Homo sapiens: one gene and its partner. The protein of the gene in region 1 interacts with the protein of each later gene in a pairwise test. Each region holds a gene or a part of one and is shown in the gene's direction. Other genes may lie near its edges. The genes, in order: MAP3K7CL and USF1.

Region 1 (3,917 bases):
ACTGTATGTATATGTGTACTGTATATGTATCTGTACTATACCTGTACTGTATGTGTGTACTGTATATGTATCTGTACTGTCTCTATTGTATATGTATGTGTATGTGTACTGTATGTGTATTTGTATTGTATATGTATGTGTACTGTGTATGTATGTATCTGTGCTGTATCTGTATGTGTACTGTATATATCTAACTGTATCTGTACTGTATATGTGTACTGTATAAACCTAACTGTATCTGTACTGTATATATCTGTACTGTATATCTGTACTGTATCTCTATTATATGTATGTGTATGTGTACTGTATCTGTATTGTATATGTATGTGTACTGTGTATGTATCTGTACTGTATCTCTATTATATATTATATATGTTTGTGTATGTGCATGTGTACTGTATGTGTATTGCATATGTATATGTACTGTATATGTATCTGTACTATACCTGTACTGTATGTATATGTGTACTGTATATGTATCTGTGCTATATCTCTATTATATATGTATGTGTAGGTATACTGTATGTGTGTCTGTATTTTATATGTATGTACTGTATATGTATCTGTACTGTACCTGTACTGTATGTATATGTGTACTGTATATATACCTGTACTGTATCTCTATTATATATGTATGTGTAGGTATACTGTATGTGTACTGTATATGTATCTGTACTGTACCTTTACTGTACATATATGTGTACTGTGTATGTACTAGGGTAGGGATTGGAAATGAGTGGCCAATGGACCTTAGAGCCAGAGAGTACCTGGAGATAATGGAAGTTCTGCTTTCTAGCACCAAGGCTCGGTCAGCACTATGTTCTTGAAGAGATTGGGGGTGACTTGGATATTTTGACCCATATTTTGGTCAGGTTTCCTCAAATGCTTCTTAGAACTGCATCTTGCCATCCAGCAACAGCTGCCTATTGCCAACCAGTCAACGTAAGCATGAGTTAGGAGGTCTTTCGGGACTCTCTGGGCTCTGGCGCTCCCTAACAAAGCTGTGAATTCTGCTGCAGGGTAGGAGTGCTGCCTGGTGTATTGGAAAGAAACGCCCCATTTGGGTTGCTGCCTGCTTCTCACTGTAACCCAGAATGAGTTTCTGGTTAACTGCCTGTTAGTGTGGTTTGTGGTAGGAGCAGACAGCAATACCATCACAGCTTGTGGCACTTGGAGTCATTCAGAGCAGAACGAATGCTTCTACTTTTCACTAACATGTTCTCCTGTCCCATTAAAGTCCTTCTGGCCACCTCATTAGCACCTTGTTAAAGCATTTTGTTTCATATCATATTTTTTGGTTTTGGCCAATGTAAGAGTATTGAAAGACAAGCAGTCCTTCTTAATTGGAGAGCTGCCAGCCTGGACATTTGAGGATTCTGATATTTGCTTGCAAAATTTTGTTCAGGCGACCTAAGCTCTCCACGCATCTGTGTGTACAGAAAATGAGCAAAATTGTCCTTTACATTCTGTCTGTCCCCAACTGAAGTGATGAAATGACTGAAACAGTGTATACTGATGGTCTAACTCTGGGGGAGTCCAAGGACTCCTACAAGAAAGAGCTCCATAGTGAAGAATCATTTTATTTCCTTGTTTTAGATGATACACCCCCTGAAGACTCCATTCCTTTGGTCTTTCCAGAATTAGACCAGCAGCTACAGGTAAGGATTTTTCTAAAGTCTCTCTTCTTTCCTCCTTAGTGTCATAAAGTATAGCGAGCTGGGCAGAGAGTGGCCTGACTAGGGGAGACTGACTTGGACCCAGAATGTGGGGCTTTGAAGTCATCAAGGATTACATTTCTAGAGCTCCAAAGTCAGGCTGAAGCCCTCATGGAATGCCCCTGTCTGGTTATCTGGCTATGGCACCAGGACAGCAAGTGCTTATAGCATAAACTGGCTCCTATTTTTAAGGGGTTCTGGAGCCTGGGAAAAGGACGGGTCCCTTCTCTACTTCGATATGGCTGTCTCTAGGTCATTGCATTTTTGGCTTGTCTGGGGTTAGTGATTTAGTATTAAACTCTGCAGAGAAGACTTACCATGTTTGCCAAGACTTTGGAATAATCTTCCTTTCTCTGTTCCCTGCCCCTTCCCCAGTTCTCTGACAACTTTTAATGGAATATAACTATTTTAACTTAAACCTTCTGAAAATTGACTTGTTGGACCCATGACAAATTATTTTGTATATGTAGTTTCTGAGTGATCTGTTGAAAGATATTTTAATACACCAGAATTATTTGAAAGGAGCTCATTTATCACATTTTAATTTTCTTTAGATTATCCATGGTGATTCCAGGCAAAAATGGCTTTCAGAAGAGGTTCTGTCTAAAATACCAGGATACTGGCCTTGGGCCAGCCATTCACTTGAATACTTAACTTTGTAGTCACATTTAGGCAAGTCCAATAGGGGTCTTGAATCCTGTACACAGACATTTCTTAGTCACCACTTTTTTCTCCTAAATATTGATTTTGAAAGCCTTTAGGAGGGGTTTGTAACCTCCAGTTCCCAACAGGCCCTGACATACCCTATTATCTTACACACAGCAGCTTTTCCCATTTGTGGGTGTGCCTTGTGTCCTAACGTCATTTGAGTTTGGCATTCTTATTCCTGGACAGCCCTCAACAGAGGTGGAAGAAGAACCAAGAATGAGCCCTTCCGCAAGCCAAGATAGTGTTCCTTTTTGTTTGCTTCTGTTCTTACCTCAGTATGCAGAGCACTGTGTTAAAAACCTGGCAGCAACCAGGTCAGGTTTGAAGAGCTGGTGTTCTACTGCCAGGGTGGTCTCTAAAAACCAACTGAGGGTGACTCAGGTGTGATCTGGCCGCTTGGAGGAGTCCTCATTCTCACCTTTGTAGCAGTCCTGGGCATTGTCTCAGCTTTCCAACAGAAAGCTGCTCAACAGAGCATTATCAGTTATGTAGGTATTACTGAAAATTGTATAGGAGGTCGGAGGGTTACACTGATCACCACACAGCTGTCAAAAGAGCTCTGTCGTCCCCTAAAATTTCCTCTCTAGCTATCAGCCATCACGTCTCCCTCTTTTTTCTATCCTCCATGCAGGGTTCTCAACCCAGCTCTCCTGGCTTCTAATTTTTAACCATAGTCTCTCCCTTCCCCACTCCCACCCCCACCAATATGTCTTCTTTTCAGCATGAAGAACAATTCAGCTCTCCCTCTACCTTTCCTTTTTTTTTTTTTTTTGAGACAGAGTCTCCCTTGGTCACCCAGGCTGGAGTGCAGTGATGTGATCTCGGCTCACTGCAAACTCCACCTCCTGGGTTCAAGCGATTCTCCCATCTCAGCCTCCCTAGTAGCTGGAATTACAGGCATGTGCCACCACGCCCGGATAATTTTTGTATTTTTAGTAGAGACGGGGTTTTGCCATGTTGGCCAGACTGGTCTCAAACTCCTGACCTCAAGTGATCCGCCCGCCTCAGCCTCCCAAAGTGCTAGGATTGCAGGCGTGAGCCACGGCGCCTGGCCTGCATTTTCTTCTGGTCTGTTGACACTGCAAGTGATAGTTCTTGCTTAGGTTCTGTTCTCACAGAGAGGCTGTCTATGTGCTGCTGGTGGTGTAATTGGGATTGCTATTGAAAGTAATGCCATTGGCCCGGTGCCGTGGCTCACACCTGTAATCCCAGCACTTTGGGAGGCTGAGGCGGGTGGATAAGACCAGCCTGGTCAATATGGTGAAACCCCATCTCTACTAAAAATACAAAAATTAGCCAGGTGTGGTGGCACACACCTATAGTCCCAGCTACTAGGGAGGCTGAGGCAGGAGAATCGCTTGAAACCAGGAGGCGGAGGTTGCAGTGAGCCCAAGGTTGCTGTGAGCCAAGATCGTACCACTGCACTCCAGCCTGGGCAACAGAGCAAGACTCCGTCTCAAAAAAATAAAAAAGAAAGTAATGGCAAAAACTACA
Region 2 (3,917 bases), on another chromosome or scaffold:
CTATCTATAAAATGGAAGTAGTGCTATCTATCTCGTGGTGCTGTTTTTAGTACTAAATAAGATTACATGTAATGTACTTAGCTTAGTGCTTATGTACATAGTAAACAGTAAACACTAGTTGTTATTCTAACCTAACCCAGCTTCTGTTGGGAATGCCAATGAGTTTGCAGCCATATGTTACTGGGCCAGTGAGCTTCTCATTGACTTCTTCTCATACTCTTCCTTTTGTCCTTTCACCACAAACAGGCAGCAGAAAACAGCTGAAACGGAAGAGGGGACAGTGCAGATTCAGGAAGGTGAGTGCTAGAAACAGAACCAAGACTAAGAACCCATCATGGCCTCCCTTCCTTCCCCACCAGACCATCTCCTGTGCATCCTCCTCCTTCCGTGACATGCAAATGGAACGGGGGTAGAAAGGCAGTTAACTCACAGACTTTTCCTTTGTTCTTTTAATTCAGGTGCAGTGGCTACTGGGGAAGACCCAACCAGTGTGGCTATTGCCAGCATCCAGTCAGCTGCCACCTTCCCTGACCCCAACGTCAAGTACGTCTTCCGAACTGAGAATGGGGGCCAGGTAAGGGAGGGGGCCAGGTGGCTGCAGGTGTTATCTGGGGTTGGGATTGAGGGAGGTAATTGAACATGTCTTGGGGAGACCTGGCTTGGAGGATGAGTTGAAAGAGTGGACTGTTGCAGGGGAGGGAGGTGCTAATACTGGAGTAGAGACTGGTGTGAGGTTAGATGTATGCTGAAACCTCTGTGTGGGGAAAGAAGGGAGAATGGCTGAATCCATGTCTCTGAAGGACTTTGTTTTGGGGCCCTATCCAAGGGAAGCTTTATGAGGGGCCCTAGGATTCCCAACACTTAATCTTTTCTTCTCTCTTCACTCCCTCTGCCTTCCTCTACACTTCTAGGTGATGTACAGGGTGATCCAGGTGTCTGAGGGGCAGCTGGATGGCCAAACTGAGGGAACTGGCGCCATCAGTGGCTACCCTGCCACTCAATCCATGACCCAGGTACAGGGTATGGGCTGGGGAGGTCACTAGAGTTCTGAGAAGTAAGATGAAGAAGGGAATCAGTAGGATGGGGGTGAAGCTAGGAACAGTGAGGCATCTAAGGCTGCCTTGTCCCAAAGCACTAGGCTCTCCTTTTCTGGATGTTTCTCTCTCTCTCTCTCTCTCTCTCCACCCTACCTACCACCCCAACGGATAGAAGCTGCAGAGTGGTGTAGTGGGAAGAAGTTTTTGACTGTTACCAGAATCAGTTTTCTTGCTCCCCTTCCCAGGCGGTGATCCAGGGTGCTTTCACCAGTGATGATGCAGTTGACACGGAGGGGACAGCTGCTGAGACGCACTATACTTACTTCCCCAGCACGGCAGTGGGAGATGGGGCAGGGGGTACCACATCGGGGAGTACAGCTGCTGTTGTTACTACCCAGGGCTCAGAGGCACTGCTGGGGCAGGCGACCCCTCCTGGCACTGGTGAGATATTGCATGAGGATGCTGGCTGAAAGGGCTAGAATAGGCTGTGGGACATGACTGGTAGGCAGTGAGCCTTCACTCATGACTCTTAGTGATCATTAAGACCTGGACAGGCAGTGAGTCTGGGGCTGCTCTTCTATTAGCATGTTCTTTTTAGAGGAGGGGACCAGGGTCTTCACCTCAGGGCTTGGTGAGGTTCCTACCCATGTCCTGACAGAACCTACCCTGCATCTTCACAGGTCAATTCTTTGTGATGATGTCACCACAAGAAGTACTGCAGGGAGGAAGCCAGCGCTCAATTGCCCCTAGGACTCACCCTTATTCCCCGTGAGTGACCCTTGTTTCTTCTCAGATTCCGTAAGTGGTTTTTTTTTTTTTTTTTTTTTTTTGAGACAGAGTCTTGCTCTGTCACCCAGGCTGGAGTGCAGTGGCATGATCTCAGCTCACTGCAACCTCTGCTTCCAGGGTTCAAGCGTTTCTCATGCCTCAGCCTCCTGAGTAGCTGGAACTACAGACATGTACCACCACCCCTGGCTAATTTTTGTATCTTTAGTAGAGACAGGGTTTCACCATGTTGGCCAGGCTGGTCTCGAACTCCTGACCTCAAGTGATCCGCCTGCCTCGGCCTCCCAAAGTGCTGGGATTACAGGTGTGAGACACCACACCTAGCTACCATAAGTGGTCCTAATACCTGCTAAATCTTGTATAATTCCTTAACCCCAAACTTCAATCATGTATTTTGTCTTCTTACTCTGGCCACCCTGGGCTCTGTTGTCAGGAAGTCAGAAGCTCCCCGGACGACTCGGGATGAGAAACGCAGGGCTCAGCATAATGAAGGTAGGTATGATCTGGGTGGAGCTAGAAGCTGTCTGGTGTGATCTCAGCAGTGATGTCTGAGGGGAGGAGGGATTAGGTAATTTTACCCTGGGACTTGTGGCGAGTTTTCACTGAGTCACCTTGTCCTCCACTTTGCCCCACAGTGGAGCGTCGCCGCCGAGACAAGATCAACAACTGGATCGTGCAGCTCTCCAAGATAATCCCAGACTGCTCTATGGAGAGCACCAAGTCTGGCCAGGTCATGGAAAGACCCTGGTAGTGGGCAGGATGCCTGAATTCTGCCTCCTGGTATTGTTTCCAGAAATGGTAGAGAGAGGGGCACACATGACAGTAGTCTTATCTCTCCCTGAGGTTCCTGTATCCCTGGGAGATATTATACCACCTTCCTTAGATGAAAATGAGGTCCAAAGTGTGAACCTACTTTTGGAAAGCAAGCTGGGTATCTGAAATCCTAGTTCTCATTTTGTTGACCTTATCTTGCAGAGTAAAGGTGGGATTCTATCCAAAGCTTGTGATTATATCCAGGAGCTTCGGCAGAGTAACCACCGCTTGTCTGAAGAACTGCAGGGACTTGACCAACTGCAGCTGGACAATGACGTGCTTCGACAACAGGTCAGACTCCTACCCCCAGTGCAGCCCTTCTCAGTTCTGCTAGCCACTGACCCAGTTTGACACCCTCTACTTTGTTCTCCATGGAGAAGGCTTCATCTTTTCCCCCTCACCAGTGGATGTCTGAATACATTCAGGGGCTTGGAAGTGCCAGCTTTACTACCCATTCCCTTTACTGCCTCCTTCCCATGTCAGGTGGAAGATCTTAAAAACAAGAATCTGCTGCTTCGAGCTCAGTTGCGGCACCACGGATTAGAGGTCGTCATCAAGAATGACAGCAACTAACTATGGGGATTCAGGGGCTTTGGGCCCAAGAACTGCAGATAGCCCAGGAGCAACAGCCTAATCCCGTGCCCCTTTCCTTCACTGCCCCACTTCTGGCATGGGACAGGGGGAAGTTCAGAAGGTGTGTCCTTGAACTGAGGCCCTGTGATATGGCGGCCTGCAGTGGTGTGAAACACACAATGTGGACGTGCACTGACAGCCTTGCCCACCCCCACCATGCAGCCCCTGGGCCCTTGTGCTCCTCTCGCACAATGCATGTGCTGTCTCCATGCTGGATACTGGACACACTAAACTCTGGGGCTTGTCCTGTGCTTGCTTAGAGTGCCCAGCAGAGGTTTGCTGACAGGTGATGCTCTGGCTTGCCCCAGGACTCTGGCACTTCCATTGGTTCTTCCTTTCCCTGGAGCTGAGGTTTAGATGTGCAACCTGTGGCTCAGGGGAGCAAGCTTACACAAGAAGTGAGGGAAGGATGTTTAGCAGTGGCTGGTGCCCATGAAGAGGAGATTGGCCAGTGAGAAGCTGAGGCCTATGCAGACATCTCTGGAGCCAGAGAGAACAACAGGCAGGGGCCCACTTGGGGCCTTCCCCCTTGTGGGGGTCGTTTTTTTTTTTTCTTTTCTTTTTTTTTTTTTTTTTTTTTTTTTTTTAAGATAAAATTGTTCAAAGCCACAGTTGTCTGTTTTTCTTCCTTTTGTGGGCCACGGGCTG

What was found.
Region 2: the proteins of MAP3K7CL (region 1) and USF1 interact in binary tests that used the Homo sapiens proteins (3 or more experiments, as listed by UniProt).

Annotation. Positions count from the first base shown.
Region 1 is NC_000021.9:29,147,593-29,151,509, forward strand, and holds part of MAP3K7CL (MAP3K7 C-terminal-like protein), read left to right. Parts: intron 1-1,596; coding exon 1,597-1,658; intron 1,659-3,917.
Region 2 is NC_000001.11:161,039,212-161,043,128, reverse strand, and holds the end of USF1 (upstream stimulatory factor 1), read left to right. Parts: intron 1-246; coding exon 247-296; intron 297-456; exon of another isoform or gene 457-458; coding exon 459-574; intron 575-911; coding exon 912-1,013; intron 1,014-1,282; coding exon 1,283-1,478; intron 1,479-1,717; coding exon 1,718-1,805; intron 1,806-2,256; coding exon 2,257-2,315; intron 2,316-2,458; coding exon 2,459-2,553; intron 2,554-2,798; coding exon 2,799-2,927; intron 2,928-3,119; coding exon 3,120-3,209; 3' UTR 3,210-3,878; downstream 3,879-3,917.